3 linked regions of the Homo sapiens genome follow. The protein of the gene in region 3 interacts with the protein of the main gene of each other region in a pairwise test. Each region holds a gene or a part of one and is shown on either strand. Other genes may lie near its edges. The genes, in order: BRI3BP, ABHD16A and BRI3.

Evidence for each region.
Region 1: the proteins of BRI3 (region 3) and BRI3BP interact in binary tests that used the Homo sapiens proteins (3 or more experiments, as listed by UniProt).
Region 2: the proteins of BRI3 (region 3) and ABHD16A interact in binary tests that used the Homo sapiens proteins (3 or more experiments, as listed by UniProt).

What each region holds. Positions count from the first base shown.
Region 1 is NC_000012.12:124,996,475-125,003,733, reverse strand, and holds part of BRI3BP (BRI3-binding protein precursor), read right to left. Parts: intron 1-7,259. UniProt on the Homo sapiens protein: Involved in tumorigenesis and may function by stabilizing p53/TP53.
Region 2 is NC_000006.12:31,686,289-31,693,417, reverse strand, and holds the end of ABHD16A (phosphatidylserine lipase ABHD16A), read left to right. Parts: coding exon 1-59; intron 60-268; coding exon 269-391; intron 392-1,499; coding exon 1,500-1,614; intron 1,615-1,737; coding exon 1,738-1,839; intron 1,840-2,101; exon of another isoform or gene 2,102-2,660; intron 2,661-2,815; coding exon 2,816-2,879; intron 2,880-3,290; coding exon 3,291-3,340; intron 3,341-3,451; exon of another isoform or gene 3,452-3,713; coding exon 3,714-3,837; intron 3,838-4,298; coding exon 4,299-4,403; intron 4,404-4,631; coding exon 4,632-4,695; intron 4,696-5,112; coding exon 5,113-5,169; intron 5,170-5,314; coding exon 5,315-5,377; intron 5,378-5,517; coding exon 5,518-5,594; intron 5,595-5,677; coding exon 5,678-5,776; intron 5,777-5,873; coding exon 5,874-5,920; intron 5,921-6,122; coding exon 6,123-6,206; 3' UTR 6,207-6,463; downstream 6,464-7,129. UniProt on the Homo sapiens protein: Phosphatidylserine (PS) lipase that mediates the hydrolysis of phosphatidylserine to generate lysophosphatidylserine (LPS). LPS constitutes a class of signaling lipids that regulates immunological and neurological processes.
Region 3 is NC_000007.14:98,284,522-98,291,780, reverse strand, and holds the end of BRI3 (membrane protein BRI3), read right to left. Parts: intron 671-7,259; coding exon 538-670; coding exon of another isoform or gene 491-537; 3' UTR 236-490; downstream 1-235. UniProt on the Homo sapiens protein: Participates in tumor necrosis factor-alpha (TNF)-induced cell death. May be a target of Wnt/beta-catenin signaling in the liver.

The sequences.
Region 1 (7,259 bases), on a different chromosome or scaffold from region 3:
TGACCCACCCGCCTCGGCCTCCCAAAGTGCTGGGATTACAGGCATGAGCCACCATGCCCGGCCGGTATTGTGGTTTTGATTTTCACAAAATTTTTATTGTTAAAGATGCTAACTGAAATATGCAAAGGTGAACTAATGTATTGGATTAGCTTTAAAATATTATTCCAGGCACCCTCAAAAAAATTTAGGAAGGAAAGAAGTAACCAGAATGGCAGAAAGTTGCTACATGGGAAGACCTGGGTGAACAAGGGTTCACTCTACTCTCCCTACCTTTGGTTATGTTGGACAATTTTCAGAATGGAAAGTTGAAATAAGGGGACCAGGTGAGCAAACTGTGGATGCCTGAGGACTCAGACAAACAAGGCCCAGCCATCGCCTCCATGGGAGGGAACAAGATTGCTTCAAGCCTGGGATTTCATCAGCGCTCTTCTTGCAGCAGTCAGGCGGGGGACATCCAACACCCGGGGACATCCAACACCGGGGTTGGGTGACAATGGCCTTCCTGCATCCTAATCTCGCTTTACCTCCATCACCCTCAGGCACATGCAAACGGGTCCTATGGAAAATCAGGCCATGAGGGCAAAGGCATCTTGATAAGCAAGCCAGGGAGAGGGGACGGGAGATTCTGCCATTCAGAGGTTTCCCAAGCATCTGAAGAACACACAGAAATGCAAAAGCCAGATGAACGGAAAATGCTGGAACATAACATACAGACCACGTATGAACCACAGAGGGGAAAGGGCACCCCCAGCGCAGTGGGCCTGCCCAGCCTCAACCCAGAGATCAAATTCAGCGTCAACCAACGAGAATGCGATGGCACAAACAGACACCACGAGCCCCGATATGGTACTGCCTCAGCAAGGACACATGATGCCTTCTGCAGAATTCTTGCCATGAAAGCTAAGTCTGAGCCTAACCCGGAGGAGATAATCAGAATAATACAATACACACTGTGGGACATTTCAAAAGACAGTTCTGGGCCAGGTGTGGTGGCTCACGCCTGTAATCCCAGCACTTTGGGAGGCCAAGGTGAGTGGATCACGAGGTCAGGAGATCGAGACCATCCTGGCTAACACAGTGAAACTCTGTCTGTACTAAAAATACAAAAAATTAGCTGGGCGTGGTGGCGGGTGCCTGTAGTCCCAGCTACTCGGGAGGCTGAGGCAGGAGAATGGCGTGAACCCCGGAGGCGGAGGTTGCAGTGAGCAGAGATTGTGCCACTGCACTCCAGCCTGGCAACAGAGCGAGACTCTGTCTCAAAAAAAAAAAAAACAAAACAAAAAAAAAAACCAGTTCTGGACTGTCAAAACCACAGCAATACTACTTCACGTCTGCCAAGATGGCTAGAATTAAAAAGGTAGACCATAGCAAGTGCTGACAAGGATGTGGGGAAACCAGGCCCCACATGCTGGTAGGCAGGTAAAACGGTACATCTGCCTTGGAAAAGGGTGACGGTTCCCCAAAGTGTTAAACAAAAAGTTCCTGTATGACCCAGCAACTGGACTCCTAGGTATGCACCGCAAAATACTGGAAACAATGCCCACACAAATATTTGCACATGGATATTCACAGCAGCATCCATTCACAATAGACAAAAAGTGACATAAACCGAAATGTGCATCAGTTGATGATCAGGTAAATAAAAAGCCATAAAGAGGAATAAAGTATTGATCCTGCAGTATGGATGAACCTTGAAAACATGAGGCTAAGTGAAAGAAGCCAGACACAAAAGGCCAGACTGTACAGGACTCCACTCCTATGAAAAGCCCACAGTAGGCTCAGAAATAGAGACAGAAAGCAGATTGGCAGTTGCTTAAGGCTGGGAGTTGGGGCAAAGGAAAAAAGTAGTGACTGCTAATGGGTACAGAGTTTCTTTTTGGGGTAATGCAAATGTTCTAAAACTGACTGTAGTGACAGCTGTACAGCACTGTGAATATACTACAAACCGCTGAGCTTTCAATGAATAAACTGTATGGTATATGAATTATAGCTCAAAAAAAAAAAAGACATTTAGTCTGTGATCTTCAGAAATGTCAATGCTGTAAAAGTCCCTTACTGGGCCAGGCGAAGTGGCTCACGCCTATAATCCCAGCACTTTGGGAGGCCAAGGCGGGAGGATCGCATGAGCCCAGGAGTCAAGAGACCAGCCTGGGCAACACAGGGATTTCGAGGAGAAATCCTGTCTCTACGAAAAATACAATAAATAAATAAATAGGCATGGTGGCACATGCTTGTAAGCCCAGCTACTCAGGAGGTTAAGGTGGGAGGATCGCTTGAACCCAGGAGGCAGAGGTTGCACCGAGCCGAGACTGCGCCACTGCACTCCATTCTGGGCTACAGAGTGAGAGCTTGTCTAAAAGAAAAAAATGCATAATTGGGGCCGGGTGCGGTGGCTCATGCCTGTAATCCCAGCACTTTGGGAGGCCGAGCCGGGCAGATCACGAGGTCAGGAGATCCAGACTATCCTGGCTAACACGGTGAAACCCCATCTCTACTAAAAATACAAAAAAAATTAGCCGGGCGTGATGGCGGGCACCCTTGGTCCCAGCTATTTGGGAGGCTGAGGCAGGAGAATGGCGTGAACACAGGAGGTGGAGCTTGCAGTGGGCCGAGATCGCGCCACTGCACTCCAGCCTGGGTGACAGAGCAAGACTCCGTCTCAAAAAAAAATAAAAATAAAAAAAAATTCATAATTAAGTCCCTTCCTCCACCAAAAGTGAGGAAACTCTGACAGACTAGAGACATGAACACTAAATGCATGAGCAGTCCTTGACTGGGTGTTGGATTTTTTATGAGCTATAAAGACAATTTGAATATGGACTATCTGTTACAAAATACTGTACTATATTTAAGTTTCTTGGCTGAGACAATGGTATTGTGGTTCTGTAGGAAAAAGTATTAAGACGTCTGCAACTAACTTTCAAATGATCCTGCCAAAAAATAAAAATAAATGTGTGTGCATGTGTGTATGTGTCTATCGGATGTGTTTGCAGAGAAAAAAGTTTGAGGGGAAATGTAAGAACTGGTGACTTTAGGGGAGATGTTTGCAGCTATTCCTTGTTCTGTTCTTTCAGCATTTTAGTACTTTGAAAAATTATCAACATAAAAAATTATAGGAAACAGGCTGGGCGTGGTGGCTCACGCCTGTAATCCCAGCACTTTGGGAGGCCGAGGCAGGCAATCATGAGGTCAGGAGATCGAGACCATCCTGGCTAACATGGTGAAACCCCGTCTCTACTAAAAATACAAAAAATTAGCCGGGCGTGGTGGTGGGCGTCTGTAGTCCCAGCTACTCGGGAGGCTGAGGCAGGGGAAAGGTGTGAACCCGGGAGGCAGAGCTTGCAGTGAGCCGAGATTGCGCCACTGCACTCCAGCCTGGGTGGCAGAGCGAGACTCCCTCTCAAAAAAAAAAAAAAAAAAAAAAATCATATGAAACTTTATCTTAACTGTGGTAATTTTTCACAAGTGTGTATGTCAAAAGGTGTCAACCTGTACACTTTAAATACGCACAGTCTATTGAGGTGTAGTGCAATTACACCTCAAAAAAGCTGTTAAAATGTTGGTAGGGGAAAAAGGACTGGAAAGTGTCAAAGTTATTTTGCTCAAAATACTTTCTTGCAAACAGCAAAAAATGCAAACCTCTTTACAAAAAAAAAAAAAAAGCAAAAACAAAAGAACCCAACAGCTCAATAGAACGGCAAAAAAAAAAAAAAAAAAGAAAAACCAAAAGGCAGTTCCCAGAACATATCGATGGATTCTGAATAAATGAAAAGACCATCTGTCTCATACATAATAAAGCCAAAAAGTTTAATGAGGCTGGGTCGGGTGTCTCACACCTGTAATCCCAGCACTTTGGGAGGCCGAGGCGGGCGGATCACGAGGTCAGGAAATCGAGACCATCCTGGCGAACACAGTGAAACCCCGTCTCTACTAAAAACACACAAAAAAATTAGCTGGGCATGGTGGCAGGCGCCTGTAGTCCCAGCCACTTGGGAGGCTGAAGCAGAAGAATGGCATGAACCCAGGAGGTGGAGCTTGCAGTGAGCCGAAATTGCGCCACTGCACTCCAGCCTGGGCGACAGAGGGAGACTCCGTCTCAAGAAAAATAAATAAATAAATAAATAAAAATAAAAAATAAAAAACTTAGCAGGGCATGGCGGTGCAGACCTGTAATCCCAGCTACTTGAGAGGCTGATGCAGGAGGATCATTTGAGCCCGGGAGGTAGAGACTGCAGTGAGCCAAGATTGAGCTACTGCACTCCAGCCTGGGCGACAGAGGGAGACTCTGTTTCAGGGAAAAATAAAATAAAAATACAAAACAGTGCGCATAGTGCAAAATAAACAAAAACCAACAATAGGGAGCAGATCTATAGATCCATATATTTATACATGTTCAGAATATCTGGCTGCTTCGGGGAAGGGGGTGGTAGACGGGTCGGTAGTGGGAAGTGGAGTTAGTTTCTTAACCTTCAGAACTACATGAAATTGTATTCCATGCAACTACGACCAAGGAGCAAGGGAAAAAAGTACTAGTTTCTCGACCTGGCATTCAGGATGTTTCCACCACATCAGTCCAGCTATATTCTGCCTGAGAGGAATCATTTTCTCCACATACAGTAGGTGCTTGAAATTTTTCATTTGTTTGTTTTTTTTGGAGACAAAGAGTTTTGTGCTGTCCCTGAGGCTGGAGTACAGTGGTGTGATCACAGCTCACTGTAGTCTCAACCTCCCAGGATCAAGCGATCCTCCCTATGCAACCTCCCAAGTAGCTGGGACCACAGGTGTGCGCCACCATGCCTAGCCAAAGGTTTTGGTTTTTCGTAGAGATGGGGTCTCACTATGTTGCCCAGGCTGGTCTCAAACTCCTGGGCTCAAGCAATCCTCCCACCTAGGCCTCCCAAAGTGGTGGGATTACAGATGTGAGCCACTGCACCAGGCCAATTTTTTTAAAAAACTGTAGTCATATACACATAAAGTTGGCCATTTTAACCATTTTAAAGTGTACAATTCAGTGGCATGAGCACGTTCACAATATCATGCAACCATTATTATCTAGTTCCACAATCTGTCATCACCCCAAAAGGAAACCCTAGATCAATTAAGCAGTAATTCCCCCATTGCTCCCTCCCCCAGCCCCTGGCAACCACCCATCTGCTTTCTGTCTCTACGGATCTTCCTATTCCAGATATTTCATATGCTGTAAATGGAATCATATAATGTGTGCCCTTTCGTGACTGGCTTCTCTCATTTATTCAAGGTTCGTCCAAGTTGTAGCATATAGCAATACTTCATTCCTTTTTATGGCTGAATCATATTTCATTATACAGACACATCACATTTTATCCCTTCATCAGCTGATAAGACATTTGGGACATTTCCACTTTTTAGCTATTGTAAAAAGTGTTGCTATGAACACATGTGTATAAGTTGCTTAATAATTTTTTTTGAGACGGAGTCTCTGTTCCCCCGGCTTGAGTGCAGTGGGGCGACTCAACCTCACCGCAACGTCAGCCTCCCGGGCTCAATCTATTCTCCTGCCTCAGCCTCCCAAGTAGCTGGGATTACAGTCGTGCACCACCACGCCCAGCTAATTTTTTTTTTTTTTTTTTGAGACGGAGTTTCACTCGTTGCCCAGGCTGGCGCGCGCAACGGTGCAATCTTGGCTCACTGCAACGGCCGCCTCCCGGGTTCAAGCGATTCTCCTGCCTCAGGCTCCCAAGTAGCTGGGATTACAGGCATGCATCACCACGCCTGGCTAATTTTTTGTATTTGGTAGAGACAGGGTTTCACCATGTTGGTCAGGCTGGTCTTGAACTCCTGACCTCAGGTGATCCATCCACCTTGGCCTCCCAAAGTGCTAGGATTACAGGCGTGAGCCACCACACCTGGCCTAATTTTTGTATTTTTAGTAGAGACAGGGTTTCGCCATGTTGACCAGGCTGGTCTCGAGCTCCTGACTTCAGATGAGCTGCCCACCTTGGCCTCCCTAAGTGCTGGGATTACAGGTGTGAGCCACCATGCCAGGGCATCACTTAATAATTTTTAAAGGAATTAACAAGTCTATTACCTCCTACCAGACAAATTCCCTTCATATAGAAATATTCTACCATTTACTAAATGCTTATTCAGTCCCTGGCATTGTGCAGCCCAACCAATCTCCTTTAATTCCCCAATTTATCTCCTCTGAACAAATGGGACACAGATAAGTAAAGCAACTGGGTGGTGCACGGTGGTTCACGTCTGTAAATCCGGCACTTTGGGAGGCCGAGGCAGGCAGATCACCTGAAGTCATGAGATCGAGACCAGCCTGGCCAACACAGTGAAACCCTGTCTCTACTAAAAATACAAAAATTAGCTGGTCGTGGTGGCATCTGCCTGTAACCCCAGCTACTAGGGAGGCTGAAGCAGGAGAATTTCGTGAATCCGGGAGGCGGAGGTTGCAGTAAGCCGAGAGCTCGCCATTGCACTCCAGCCTGGGAGAAGAAGCGAGACTGCATCTCAAAAAAAAAAAAAAAAAAAGAGAAGTAAAGCAAAAAAAAAAGAGAAGTAAAGCAACTGGCTCAGGGTCACAGAGCGAGTGAGAAACAGCTAGGATTCAAACTCATGTCTGTTCCCATGCTCCAAACAGGATGGTCATAGGTGTATTTCAGACAAGTCCTAGATTAGAATATGGGAGGCCGGGCACGGTGGCTCAAGCCTCTAATCATAGCACTTTGGGAGGCTGAGGAGGGCGGATTACGAGGTCAGGAGTTCGAAACCAGCCTGGCCAACATGGTGAAACCCCATCTCTACTAAAAATACAAAAATTAGCCAGGCATGGTGGCACACACGCCTGTAATCCCAGCTACTCAGGGGGCTGAGGCAGGAGAATTGTTTGAACCTGGGCGGCAGAGGTTGCCATGAGCCAAGACTGAACCACTGCATTCCAGCCTGGGCGACAAAGCAATACTCCATCTCGGAAAAAAAAAAAAAAAAAGACTATGGGGTGTTTTTTTAAATACCATTAAACTTCACAAAGCAGGTTTGGCTCTAATTCGTAAACCCAGGCATGCTGAAAACTACAGTTGCTGGCAGACCCAGTTTTCCTTTATTTAAAATTCACAAAACAGGCTGGGCACGGTGGCTTACGCCTGTAATCCCAGCACTTTTGGAAGGCTGAGGTCGGCAGATCACTTGAGGTCAGGAGTTTGAGACCAGCCTGGCCAACATGATGAAACCTCATCTCTACCAAAAACATAAAAAATTAGCCGGATGTGGTG
Region 2 (7,129 bases), on a different chromosome or scaffold from region 3:
TACAACTTTGACTTCCGGAGCTGGCCAGTCGACTTCCACTGGGAAGAACCCAGCAGCCGGTGAGGCCCCAGTTCTTTTGCTGTATCTCTCCCCTTAGAACCATTCCAGAAAATCTCTGCTCTGCCCTCCCACCTCCATGCCCTCTCAGGTCACAGTGCCTGCCTTCCAATGCCATTATGTCGTTCCTAGACCCCACTGTTCTCCAGACCTCAGACATCCAGCTTGCTGCTCCTGACCCTATCCTTCCCTGCATCTTTCCCTTCCTCAGGAAGGAGTCTCGAGGGGGCCCTTCCCGCCGGGGTGTGGCCCTGCTTCGCCCAGAGCCCCTGCACCGGGGGACAGCAGACACCCTCCTCAACCGGGTTAAGAAGCTGCCTTGTCAGATCACCAGGTGGGAAACAGCAGCGAGGAGAGGCCCACTGGGGTGGAGGGGCCATTTCAGGAGTGCTCTGGGAGTGGGCGCTCCATTGTAAAATAGCTGTCACTCATTGGGCCTAGTGCTGTATGGTTTGTGTAGATCATTTATGGCAAAGTCATTTTTATCCATATTTATGTTTGAAGAAAAGAGGCTCAGAGAGGTCTGGAGTCTCAAATGTAGTAAGTAAAGAACTGGGATATGAACAAAAGCTCCTTCAGTGAGGCTGAAAAGGAGCAGTGGGGGTGGGGTGGGGGTGGGGAGGACACACACTTGTAGCTAGGGCAGGCTCTGGTAGCATCTGTGTACCCATCGTGGCCCCTCTGCCCTGTTGTTATTCCACCTTGGCTCCGGGCCCCTGTGTGCCTCAGTGTCTGCACCTGTGATGAACCTGCCCTGCAAGGTTGCTGAGGAGATTAAGTAAGGTAACATGTTCTGAAGGGCTCCTGCCTTGCCTGGGTGCTTGAGAGCACATGGTAAATCCCAAATAAAGCTCAGTCGTGGGTACTGATGATGTCAGAAGGAACGGAAATAACCACCTATATCTTATAGTGGAACAGACACTGGGAATTTTCTTTTGCTGGGAGTTAGGAGGCAGCTTCTAGAATACCAAGGAACAGGGTGGACTTAGTGGTTGGTTGTTGACAGTGTGCTAATTAGTCAGGGAGGCAAGCCATATTTGAGGTTTTGAATTATAACCATCATTTTTTAAAGCATTATTTATTTGGGGACCTTTAATATGTTGTACTTATATTTTAACAGAATCATAATCTGATGATAACTTTGCATTTACTTATTATGTATAGACAGTTACATCATAAAACTCTCAGAATTCTGTACATACAGGATATGTGTGCACTGAGCCACAATATAAAATGTTTATCTTACAAAGGTTGCAGTAAGAAAAGTTTGCAAAACACTAGCCTGGTACATATTTCATTAAGGCTTGAAAGAGGAAAGTAAAGCTGTGAAGGTCAGGGGTAAAGCAGGCCTTACAGTCTGTGAGTGCTAGGGCTGGGATGGTCCCCAGCACAGTCCCCAGGCCTCAACAGGGTTGGGGTTTGTTAACCTGTGTTCCCCACAGCTACCTGGTGGCGCACACCCTAGGGCGCCGGATGCTGTATCCAGGCTCTGTGTACCTGCTGCAGAAGGCCCTCATGCCTGTGCTGCTGCAGGGCCAGGCCCGACTGGTGGAAGAGGTGAGGCTTCCCTGCCCGCACATCCCCTAAAGCCCTCCCCTCTCACCCCCACCCACCCCGCCCCACCCCTGTGATGTGGCCTCCTGACCCTTGCATCTTGGCCATTGCGTCTTCCGTACTCAGTGTAATGGGCGCCGGGCAAAGCTGCTGGCCTGTGATGGCAATGAGATTGACACCATGTTTGTGGACCGGCGGGGGACAGCTGAGCCCCAGGGACAGAAGCTGGTAAGAGGGAGCAGAGAGCCCAGAGGTGGGGTGAGTGTGAGGAAGGCAGTAGAGGTCTGGGGACCCCAATGCTATAGCACCTCCCTGAAGGAACCACTACTGGGGATAATCTCATGTCCTAGCTCCACGCTAAAGACCTTGTGATGTAGTGAAACCCTGTGATAGAGAAACAGATGAAGTAGGAGAGACGTTCAAGGACGAGAAACTAATATTAATAGTTACCACTTTGACAGCACTTCACACTTATATATATTTAATTCTCATATATATATGAAGCATATATATTTAATTCTCAAAAGAATCCCGTGAGATAGGTACTGCTTATATTAGCCCATTTTACAGGAGATGAAACTGGGGCACAGAAAACCTTTCCTGGACCTCACAGTAAGTGGTAGAGCTGGTATTTGGACCCAGGCAGCCTGGCCTCAAAGTCTCCTACCTCCATGAAGCAGCCGTGGAAAGAGCGCTAAGCCAGGAGTCTAGGGAGCTGGGTTCTAGTCCTGGCTCTGCCCATCTGTTATGAGAGTTCATGCAAATCCCACCATTCGTGGGTTTCAGCTTGGGGCGCCATGGCATTACAGTTTATCTGACCATAAGACTGGAGCTCAGAGAGGGATAGGGAGAGCAATCAGCATACCACACAATAGCAATGGTCACAGAAGATAACAGACCCGAAAACGAGAAAGGAAAAACATCTCCATAGTCCCCTTCCTGAAAGAGATCCAGCTGGTAATCTTCCAAGGAAAAGACATGGCTGGGTGGTCGAGCAGGTCAGCCTCTGAGGAGTATTTGTAATCCCTTTGCTTCTCCTCTTATGGACCCTGTGGAATGAGAAGCTTCCATTCCCCTTGGAGAAAACAGAAACCTGCCCTTTCCTCTTCCCTGCAAAGCTCTTCATGGGCTGCCCTCCCTGCCCAAAGGGAGTTTTTCAGTCCCAACTTGGCCCCCCAGCCCTTCCTTCCTGCCTCCTTCCTAGGTGATCTGCTGTGAGGGGAATGCTGGGTTTTATGAGGTGGGCTGCGTCTCCACGCCCCTGGAAGGTAGGACGGTGACTCAGCCTCCTTATCTCCGCCCTTTGAAAGGGAATGTCCCTGCCTCCCACACTGACCTGACCTCCCCTGGCCTCTGCTTTCTCTGGGTGAGGTTTTGAGTCTCTCAGCTTTAGGGAAAAGTCCACTCGCCATTTGCTTTGATAACCTTACATCCCTCCCCTGGCCTGTGTCCCTAGCTATTATGCTTTTCATTCTGTTCCATTCCCCCACCACACACCCCACACAATCACATGCTGCTCCCTGTGCTGCCTCAGAACCTCTGGTGTCATCTCCTATTTCTGGGAAGGCTTGGAGTTATTTGCATCTAAGCTGGGGGGTACTTCTGCTCTTCCTTCCCCCAGGGATGGAGAAAGGGCTGTGGGCCACAAGGTCTCAGTCCCTCCTCCCCCTGTGTTACAGCTGGATATTCAGTCCTGGGCTGGAATCATCCAGGCTTTGCTGGAAGCACGGTGAGACCATCTCAGGAATCCCTTCCTTTTCCTGAATTATGTCTGTTTCCCTCTGGTCAGCCATTGGAGGGAGGAGAGGGGCTGTGGATTTCTTGAAGGCGTCCCACTCACCTGAGGGCTGGGGTCTAGGAGGTTGTGAAGGCAGCATTGGGAGCCATGCCCCCATCCCCACAGTGCGGGGCTAGCAGGAGAGGAGGAGGTAGATCTCATTGTACACATCCGTCTTCTGGAGAGAACAACCTCTCCTACCATCCCTTCCTTCTACACCTTCTCTGCCTGTCATAGGTGGCTGCAGGAGGGGTCCACGTTGGGAGGGACAGGTGAGCTGGCCTTTGGTGCTGACACACTCCTGACTTTGCCCTTTCTCCTGCAGGGGGTGCCATTCCCGCAGAATGAGGCTAATGCCATGGATGTGGTGGTCCAGTTTGCCATCCACCGCCTAGGCTTCCAGCCCCAGGACATCATCATCTACGCCTGGTCCATCGGCGGCTTCACTGGTACCAGCCTCCCTCCCATCCCCCACTGTAGACACATTCATGACCACCCAGCCCCACCCGGGAGAGGTGGGGAAATGGGGTGGGGTGGAGGCTCAAGGAAGAAGAGAGAGGAAGTAGAATCTCTGAGTGGGCCTGGAAGAAGCTATCCTATTTGCATACACTTCACCTTTCCTTCCCCTCTTGTGCCCAGTCATTAAAAGGAAAAGCAGACCCAGGTCCTGGGTGGGGAGATCAGGGAAAGTGAATGTTTCCTGCCCATTATCTTCAGTGCACTATCTCCAGTGTTCTATCCCCATCCTCTCCAGATAGTTCCCTAACCAAGTGAAGTAGGTTAAGAAAAAAACAAGGGATAACATAGGGGGAATGGGGTTGGCCTATAGGGTCAGTGGGATGAGAGCATGGGTGGTGGGGAGAAAGGAGCCTTTCTCAGTTCTTACTCTTCTTCCCTGCCCTGGTACCAGCCACGTGGGCAGCCATGTCCTACCCAGATGTTAGTGCCATGATCCTGGATGCCTCCTTTGATGACCTGGTGCCCTTGGCCTTGAAGGTCATGCCAGACAGCTGGAGTGAGTGCAGCTCCCAGGCCTGCCCTTCCTGGGAAGGGGTGGGCTGGAACTGGGAACTGTTCTGAGATGGCTCCCTTTTCTTGGGTGGGGAGTAAGTCGCCCCATTGTTGGAAGCAGGAGGACTCCTTTGTCTGGGGGCCTCAGTTTTCTTTCTCCGTGAATAGTGAGGACCTTTATGTTGGGCAAGGGCTTTGTCTCTGCCATCCCTTCACCTTTATCCCACTCTAGGGGGCCTGGTGACCAGGACCGTGAGGCAGCATCTCAATCTAAACAACGCGGAGCAGCTGTGCAGGTGAGGGCCGGCCAGCGTCCGGCATTGAACACCTGCCCCCCATACAGCTCTGCTGGGCGCTCAAACCCTGAAACTAGTACTAAAGTGCAAGTTGGTAAAAGGCCACTGGCTCACATCCTGAGTGACCCTGCCACCACCTCAACTGGCCTAACCCCTCCCAGGTCCCCTGGGACTCTGGACCACCTCAGGATCTGGCAACCAAAGGGTTAAGGCCTGGCACGGCAGGGGTCTCCCAGCAGGGCCAGACTGAACCATGCCCCTTAAATAATCCCCTCTCACCCCTGAGTGAAGGGCTAGGTCAAGGGCTGTGCTATAGCAAGGGGAGGGTAAGAATGCTACCAGTGCAGGGATAGGGGTGGGCCAGTTGTCACCCGTCTCCCTCTGAGCTCTCCCTTCCCACTGCTCTGTTCTCTGAAGATACCAGGGTCCTGTACTGCTGATCCGGAGAACCAAGGATGAGATCATCACCACCACGTGAGTGCGTGGGAATCTCGGCCCTCAGGAACCCCAGAGATGGCCAGGAACTTGTCCCTTCTACCTCTGCCCACCAGAAACCTGGGTATCTAGACCCTTCCTCCTAACCTCCAGCCCCTCCAGGGTACATTCTTCTCACCCCCAGGGTTCCTGAGGACATCATGTCCAACCGAGGCAATGACCTCCTGCTGAAGCTCCTGCAGCATCGGTGAGAGCCAGGGTGTGTGCGCGCTGGGGGCAGTGTACACACACAGATACTGATACCAGCACAGGGAAGGAGGGAGGAAGGTTCAGGGATGGTGAATGAAAAAAAATCAGCCCTGACCTGTCCTGGCACTTCCTCCGTAGGTATCCCCGGGTGATGGCAGAGGAGGGTCTTCGAGTGGTGAGGCAGTGGTTGGAGGCCTCCTCACAGCTGGAGGAAGGTGAGAAGGGATCCAGTGAGGCTTGGGGCGGGGGCCCAGCAAGGTCAGGTTGCTGACTGGCTGTCATCTCTCTCCCTGACCAGCCTCAATTTATAGCCGATGGGAGGTGGAAGAGGACTGGTGTCTGTCTGTCCTCCGCTCCTACCAGGCAGAACACGGGCCCGACTTCCCCTGGAGCGTGGGTAAGGAGCTCCTGGGGCAGGAGAGAGGGTGGGAAGGGCCTAGGAAGGGGATGAATACCCAGATGTGTGGCCTATTTTGAGCGCCTCCTCTCTGCAGGGGAGGACATGAGTGCAGATGGACGGCGGCAGCTGGCTTTGTTTCTGGTGAGCTAAGGAGTGGGAAGTGGGAAGGGTTCTTGAATGGCCAGGGCTCACATAGGGGGACTGGGGATACCCTATAAGCATTGGAAGTGGCAGCTTTTGTAGAGTGGGTGGTGGATGCGGAAGTGGAGGGTGGGGAGGGAGTCCAGTGGCTGCCCCTCCCAACAGTGCTCTGTACCCCACCTGTCCCACCTCCTTTCCTCAGGCTCGGAAGCATCTGCACAACTTTGAGGCCACTCACTGCACCCCACTCCCAGCCCAGAACTTCCAGATGCCCTGGCACCTCTAGGGACCAACTGGGACTCATTATGGAAGAATGGGGTGAGAGGAGACATGAGGAAAGACCCTCTTATTTGTGATTCTCTGTGTTCATGTTGCTGTTTATAGTTTGTGGAAAGTGGGGGACCATCCCCCTTCTCACCACTGTTCCTCTTGCACGTTTCCCCTCATTCATGTGGCTGTACTTAACCTTCTCCAACATACATCCTGCATTACATGAATGGATTATTCCTAATAATTAATAAAAAGGTATTTTTTCTACTATCAGGCTAATTGTATAACTTCTCAAGTGTCCAGGGAGCCAGGGGCAGGTAGTGGGGAGAGCAGAGGCCCCAAAGAGCTGGGCTTTGGGAAACCCTAACTCTAGACAATCTAGCTAATCTAACCCTTCCCATCTCTGTGTCCCCCTAGGCCTTCAGCCCCTAACCTGAGCTTTCCTCAGGCAGCAGGTCCCCAAACCTCCCCGGTCCCTGATGTGCCTACTGTTATCACAACTGTGCAGCCTCCCTGGCCCCTCCCGCCTCCTTCTTCAGTTCTTCCTGCATACAACCACCCCAGGAGCCCATGGTTGCCCCCTCCTGCTTACGGCTCATGAGCTTTCTAGGATCCGATTTCACCTACCCAGTGCTTCTGCTGGTTTCCAGGTTCAACCTGCATGGTGTTACTAGCAGTACCCCCAATTTTCATTGCTCACCTCTTGTTATCTTGGTGAAGAGTGAGGAAGGGCCTGCTCCCCACGTCTTATGCAGCAAACCCTGCACACCCACCTTGCCATGTCATCAAGTCTCTGTCCTCACAGCCTTTTTGCAGTTCAACAAACACAGGCCCTGCCAGGGACGGAGGGCCAGGTGCCAAGGACTCATGTCTTCTCAGAGCCATACTTTGCCTTTTGGACGGCTCTGTTAGGAGAAGATGCTTAGGTTGTACCTGAGG
Region 3 (7,259 bases):
CCGTGGCTCACCCAACCCCAGGTTCTGCCTCCCAGACCAGAACGGGCATGGCCTGGTCCTTGGCACCGAGGTGCCTGCTCTGTAAATATCAAGGGATTACAACTTTAATAATAAAGCAGAACTTGAAAACATTTTCTTGAGCTGTAAGCGCCTGCTGAATACAACTGTGGTCAGGACTGGCCGGGGGAGCGATGGGGGTGTCGTTCCAGTCTTTCCTGGGTCTCTGAAAGCACCGAGTAAGCAGCACCAGGTCAACAATGGTATGAATCTCATTTATTGAAAACATTATTTCTCACCTTTCTCAAATTGAAGACTGCAAAAAATAAAAGCAGTGCTTTATTGAGTTGTCATGAGCCTCGGGCGGGAGCAGCAGCACTGCCTCTCCACGCTCCGGGAAACCGCAGCTGGCGTGTGCCACATCGGTCCCACCTCGCTTTACAAAACAGTCCTGAAGCTTAATCAAATAAAATTATTGTACACAACATTTACATTAGAAAAAGAGAGCTGGGTGTAGGAAAGCCGGGCCTGGTGTTCCCTTTAAGCGAAGGTGGCTCCACAGTTGGGGCATCGTCGCTTCCTCAAGGCAAAACAGCAAATGAACCCAAAGGGGAAGAGGATGATGGCCAGGAAGATGCCCAGGAAGGTGAAGCAGTCCTCCAGCACCCCAACCCTGCAGCAGAGACGGGCAGAGAGGGTGGCACCGTAAGGACCCGGGCAGCCAGAACCCTCACCCCTGCCACCCTTGCATTCAATAACCAACCAGTGGCCATGAGTCACATGGGGACCTCTGGCGAGTGACAGAAAACAGCCCCCCACCCCACCACCCAGCTACAGCCCACTGGCCTGGAGAGCCCCAAGAACCAGCTGCACGTACCCGTTCATGGAATGGCCATAGTTATTTAATCACTACATGTAACATTCAAAGAAAACGGGAAGAATAAAACAGTTGAAAGGACTCATCAGTTAACCTTGAAAGGCAAGGCAGGGTGTGTGGTGGCTCACGCCTGTAATCCCAGCACTGTGGGAGGCGGAGGCGGGTGGATCACCTGAGTTCAGGAGTTCAAGACCAGCCTGGCCAACACGGTGAAACCCTGTCTCTACTAACAATACAAAAATCTGCCAGGCGTGGTGGCACATGCCTGTAGTCCCGGCTACTTGGGAGGCTGAGGCAGGAGAATCGCTTGAATCCAGGAGGCAGAGGTTGCAGTGAGCCGAGATTAAGCCACTACACTCCAGGCTGGGCGACAGAGCGAGACTCCATCTCAAAAAGTAAAACCTTGAGAGATGGCCGGGCGCGGTGGCTCACGCCTGTAATCCCAGCACTTTGGGAGGCCGAGGCGGGTGGATCATGAGGTCAGGAGATCGAGACCATCCTGGCTAACAAGGTGAAACCCCGTCTCTACTAAAAATACAAAAAATTAGCCGGGCGCGGTGGCGGGCGCCTGTAGTCCCAGCTACTCAGGAGGCTGAGGCAGGAGAATGGCGTGAACCCAGGAAGCGGAGCTTGCAGTGAGCCGAGATTGTGCCACTGCAGTCCACAGTCCGGCCTGGGCGACAGAGCGAGACTCCGTCTCAAAAAAAAAAAAAAAAAAAAAAAAACAACCTTGAGAGGCATGATCATTTTGGTGCCACAAGCCACATACATCTGCTCTTAGAAAAGGAGCAACTAGCAGCTTAGTGATCCAGTCAGGTTTGGGCTTTTATTCGATTTCCGTTCCTTTGGTAGCGGGGGTGGGTTAATGGGAGACTACAGTCGGCCATGTTCACACAATGTCTGAAGGCCACTTATTTTGAGAAATGTGATCTCAAAGCCGCCTCTTCAACAAAGTTCAATGTTTGTAACAGACTAAAGACACCTGCAGGCCATCCCTCAAATCCTGCGCCAGTGAGCCTAGGTTCAGTGACCTGAAATCATCATCGAACCCAACTGTCAGTTTCAGAGGCCCTAAAAGTAGGAAGCCAGAAGCCTAGTGCTCAGCTCAGCTCCTTAGGCTATTTCTGGAAAGTTCTGGACACAGCTGAAATTAACCACACTAGCCAGCTCAGCCCAAATGAGAAAAGCTTTGCTCCCACCAGACAGGCAGACCCCAACGGGCTCCTTCTGGGCCTCCTGGGGGCCCAAACCCCCCATCCAGCCAGTGCTGGAGTGAGTGGACAGAAAAACACAACAGGGTGGGGCTGTCTGATAGATGATGGGACCTGGTGCTTAGGGGGGAAGGGGAGCCTACAGCAAGGCAGTGCAGCCGCCTGCCTGCGACAGGGAAGCATGACTACCTGTGCCTTGCTAAGGGGAGAAAACTTGGCCATCTGGGGGACCCTACTCCCATCCCAGCCCCCTGGATGTTTCCAGCTGCTTCCTGGGGGTCTGGACTCATGAGGGCCACTGCCCCCACCCCTGCTGGGCAAAGCAGGCTGGGGAGCCCAAACCCCACCCACAGAACCTGTTCCCTGCTTCTCCGGGGATTATGGAAAAATAAACCAGAATATTCTGAAGTCGGGCTTTCCACTGCTGAAAGAAAAAGTTGCAAAGTGCAGTGGCTCATGCTTGTCATCCCAGCACTTTGGGAGGCCGAGGTGGGTGGATGACCTGAGGTCAGGAGTTCGAGACCAGCCTGGTCAACATGGTGAAACCGCGTTTCTACTAAAAATACAGAAATTAGCTGGGCGTAGTGGTGGGTACCTGTAATCCCAGCTACTCGGGAAGCTGAAACAGAATTGCTTGAACCTGGGAGGCAGAGGTTGCAGTGAGCTGAGATCGTGCCACTGCACTCTAGCCTGGGCAACAAGAGCAAAACTCCGTCTCAAAAAAAAAGAAAAAAGAAAAAAACTTCATGCCCACCTGCCTCCCTCTAGCCTACTCAGGGAGGTCCCTTCAGCAATCTCCAGTGGAGTAGGACACCGTGGCTCACGCCTGCAACTGCAGCACTTTGGGAAGCTGAGGCGGATCGCTTAAAGCCAGCAGTTCAAAACCAGCCTGGGCAACAAAGACCCCTCCCTACAAAAATTTAAAATTAGCCAGACACAGTGGTATGCATTTGGAAAAGGGGGATTGTTCAGCCGATTTTGGGAAACTTTTCTCCTACAGTCCCTATGTCCATTCGTTCTCAAAAGGCTCTGAGAAGTCCTGCAGCACTCTTATACCCAGTGTTTCCCAAACTCACACAACGCCACCTGTCTGTGTGGAGGGGCTGAGCTGGGCTGCAGGGCACACCATGAAGCTCCAAGGCAAAGCCAAGCAGAAGACCAGAGTCTGCCAGGAAAGTTTCTACTTCCTGTGTGGGCTTTTACAAATGTGTCCCCTATTTAAGCCCCAGAAGGTCGTCAGGCCACCACACTTGTTCAGCCTTGCCCAGGGCTGCCCCTGCCAGTCCAGACTGGGCAGGACACCTCCGCCCAGCCCTGCCGACTGCAGCACGCCCTGCCTGGCTCCAGGACCTTCTCCCCCAGGTGCCACAGCTCCCAAGACCACACAGTCGAGGTGGGGGAGCCTCGGGAAGGCCAAGCACCAGCTGTGTCCCCACAGATGGCCATGACAGGTTCCGGGGGAGCTGGAGGGAGCCAGTGGCCTCAGGCCTCTCAGGGGAGCTTCCTCTTCCCTTTTCTTCCTGGCATCTGCGGTCAAATCCCAGGAAACACACTGGCTGTATATTCTGGTTAGAAAATGTCCCATGAAAAAGCAGACAGGGAGGGTGAACCGGCTGAGAAATCCTTCTAGGGGAGAGGCCCGCACCCCCCAGAGTGGTCCCCAGTGTCACCGGGCACCCCTCAGCCAGCCCAATCAGTGACCATCTGAGCACCTCACCTCAGGACCAAAGCTGCTGAGAGGCAGGGCTGCAGGCAGAGCTGACTGCCTGTTCAAAGGCCCAGAGATGCCTGGGAGGAGGCTGGGCAAAGGGGTGTGGGTGGGGAGCCCGGCTGGAGCCCGCCCATGGGGCGCAGCAGAGACATCCAGGTGTGATGGTGCAATGGGCAGGGGTGGGGCTTCACAGTGCTGCCTGGGGGCCCCGCCCACACCAGCCTCCCACCTGCAGCTGCTGCTCGCGCCTGGGACCCAAGTCCAAGAGCAGCAGCGCCCTCCTGCTTCCTAATTCTCCATCCAGACCCAAAACCCACCTACTCTGTCAGAGCTGAGAAGTGCAGGAAGGCTGCTCACTCTTGCTGCACTCCCACTGCCACGGGCCAGGGCGCCGGCCCACCTGAGTGCTAGGATTTCCAGCAGCGCCAGCCCAGCCCACCCAGGCCCCGGCGCCTCTCTTCCCAGCACCTTGATTCCCAGCCCCGGGGCTGCAAGCAGCACAATGGGCCAAACCTAATGTGCTGACCCCACGGCCTCCCAGGCACAGGGAAACACCCTCCTTCCAACCCACGGAATTTCTGTCCAGACCCATCCCATCCTCAGCCAGAGCACAGGGCTGGGCCGTTTGTGCCACCCTGGCCTGAGCCCCTCAGTCCAGGGACCCACTCCGGCACCTCCTAAGGCAGCCTCCCTATCCCTGGTCCATTCAACCCCCACCCTCCTGCCCACCTCCACACCGCTTAAAGAGAGGGTAGGAGGGCCAAGGCCCCCGGGTCTCTGGGGAGAGCGAGCCTGTTTCCCTGCAGTGCCGCCCGGGAGCTGGACAGATCCAGCTGTCCCAGGAGGCTCAGGCCTCTGCCAGCAACAGAAGGCTGTGATCCAGACCTGAGAACCCCGGCCCGGGAGAACGAGCACTTGGGCCTGAGAGCTCTGAACGGGCTTCGAAGGCCCGAGGGCTGGCCAGGAGAGTTCGGCCCTCACCTCTGGCTCTGGGGTCAGCCTAAGGGTGGGCAGCATTCCCTACCCCCCAGGATTCCACAGCCGTACCCACAACTTCAAACGCCAAGAGGCGCTGAAGGCAGAACTCGCTGTCACTTGACAGCAAACTCACCTGGCAGCAACATGTGACCTGAACTGGTGTGTGGCTATTTATAGTCGTAATTTATCCTACTTTATCTGAATATTCATGTCTTGCTGCAGAAATATTAAAGTTTTAACTGCAGTACTGCCCTAGACCTCAAAAGGAGTGTTGGCATCATTTACTTTTTAAAACCCCAAATCTTCTGAACTGAGAAACACAATCCAGATTCTAGGTCAAGACTCCCCAAGCTGCAGGGCAGTCCTGTCCCCAGCACTGGAGGGCAGAAGGGGAACCCCTGCCCCGGAACACCTGCGGTCCCCACAGCCTCGAGTTCTCCTCCCTTCCAAACCCGGAAGAGCCCACCTGAGTTGGTGAGGTGGGTTTCAACCTTCTCAACCGCTCTGGTCCTGACCGGCTCTCTCTAGCCGCCCCTCCCCCATTCTTGTGCAATAAGCCACGCGGCCAGGGAGGGACCATGGCCACTGGCGAAATTAGGGAACTGACTAATTCCAAGAGCACTCCCTTAAGGCGACTCCAGTCCTGCAGTGAAAGTGGCCAGTCATGCCACTGTCATCCACTCAGAGCTGGGCCCTGGGACAGTAGAGGCCGCGGGGCTCCCGCCTCACCAAGGACAGAGGGGGCTGGCAGCAGGGCTCTGAGCTGCCCAGGGAGAAGGCCATCCTCGCCCTCCCTGTGTCCCCACAGGCACTTTACAGGAGGCTGAAGCTGAGGGTGTGTCCAGGGACTCCCAGCCGGGAAAGGCGTGGCTGGGATCTGAACCCAGATGGGCTCCCCAGTCACGAGCACCCATCCTGCAGGTCCCAGTTCTCCCTCCCAGGTAGCCCCCAAAGGCAGTGTCACAGGGGGCTGGCCCTAGGGCACCAAGCTGCCCTCTGCGCACATGGTGGCCTCAAGGCACCATCCACGCCCAGGAACAACCCCAGACCACCACCCCGCTGGAAGGCCAGGCCTCGCCAGGAAAAGGGGAGACGCAGGGCTTCCTCAGAGGGCTGAGGGCCTGAAGCCATGCTCAGCGCAGGGCGAGGTGGCCCCAAAGCAGCTCCAGCCAGGCTCTGGCTGTCCCAGGGTGTCCACTCCCCACAGGGGAGCTGCCTGGCTTAGGGACAGTTCACCAGGACCTCCCAGGGCCATTCCCAGCAAACCCAATGGCCAGGGCCAGCCCTCGCCTCCCCTGTGGAAGAAAGGCCTGAGAAGGTGCCCGGAGACTCTGCCTGCCACCACACCCACCCCAGCAGTGCCACTTGGCCCACAGCTGGGGGCTGAGCCCAAGGTCAGAGACTCAGGAGGCCACTGAGGGAGCACTTGGGCACCGAGGTCTGCAGCCCTGCCCAGCAAGCAGCCCAGGCCCAAGCTCCGGCCCATCCGCTGCCCCCACACCTCAGGCCAAGACTGTCAGGACGGGGACAGCCCACAGGCCATACATATGGGCAGAGCCATCCCAGCTAACTCAGCCACTTCCTCAACCAGGGGAGCTCTGGCTTCCAGGTCACAGGTGGTAGGAGGGAGCAGCCCCTCCACCTCCATCGTCTGGAAGCCCAAGGCTGTCACAGGCTCCTTCCCCTCCAGCCCCTCCCGGGCTCCACAGTCACCACCCCGTGCCCTCCACAGCCCACCTCTGCCCCCCAAGGGCCGTGGCAGCCTCCACGCTGGCCACTGAGCCGCACCCTGGACCTCTGAGCGACATCCGCCCTCCACAGCTGTTCTTTTCACCTTCCCTAGGAAAAGTGAAATCCTTTCCAGGATTTCCTCTCTCTCTGGTCACCCCCAAAACTAAATACCCAGTGACAGCCCAGCCAGTACTCATGGGGGCCTGGTGCAGGCCAGGGGCCTTCCCCACTCCTGCCTTCCCCGCTTGCAGGACGCAGGCTCTGCTCCAGCCCAGGAGAGCCTCCCAGCGCAGCTACCTCATCCTGCACCTAGGTACAACCACACCCCCAGCAAAGAATGACTGGCCTCCCTGGGCAAGGGAGAACCTGGCTTCAGGGAGGCCCAGGCCTTGGGCAGGGCAAGGCAGGGCAGGGCAGGGCAGGGCAGGGGTGAAGCAGGAGGGTGGGAGGAGCAGGGACATATCCGCCGCCAGGCTGCGGAAATGCTTCCTCATAAACGGCTAGAAAGGGAAGATGGAGTCAGGCAGCTTCAGCGAAGGCCTGGCCAGGGCAGCAGAGCCACAAGGGACACGGGCTTCTCTGGCCAAGCCTCACTCAGAAGGACTAACAGATGTGTGACTTGGGCAAATTCCTGCCATGCCACCAGGCAGGGAGGGGGACAGAGCCCGGCGGGCTGGACCTGGGGCAGGAGGAAGTGTGGTCATGTGAGTGGTATCCTGTCTCCCGGGCCAAGACGCCAGGCAGCGGCCAGACG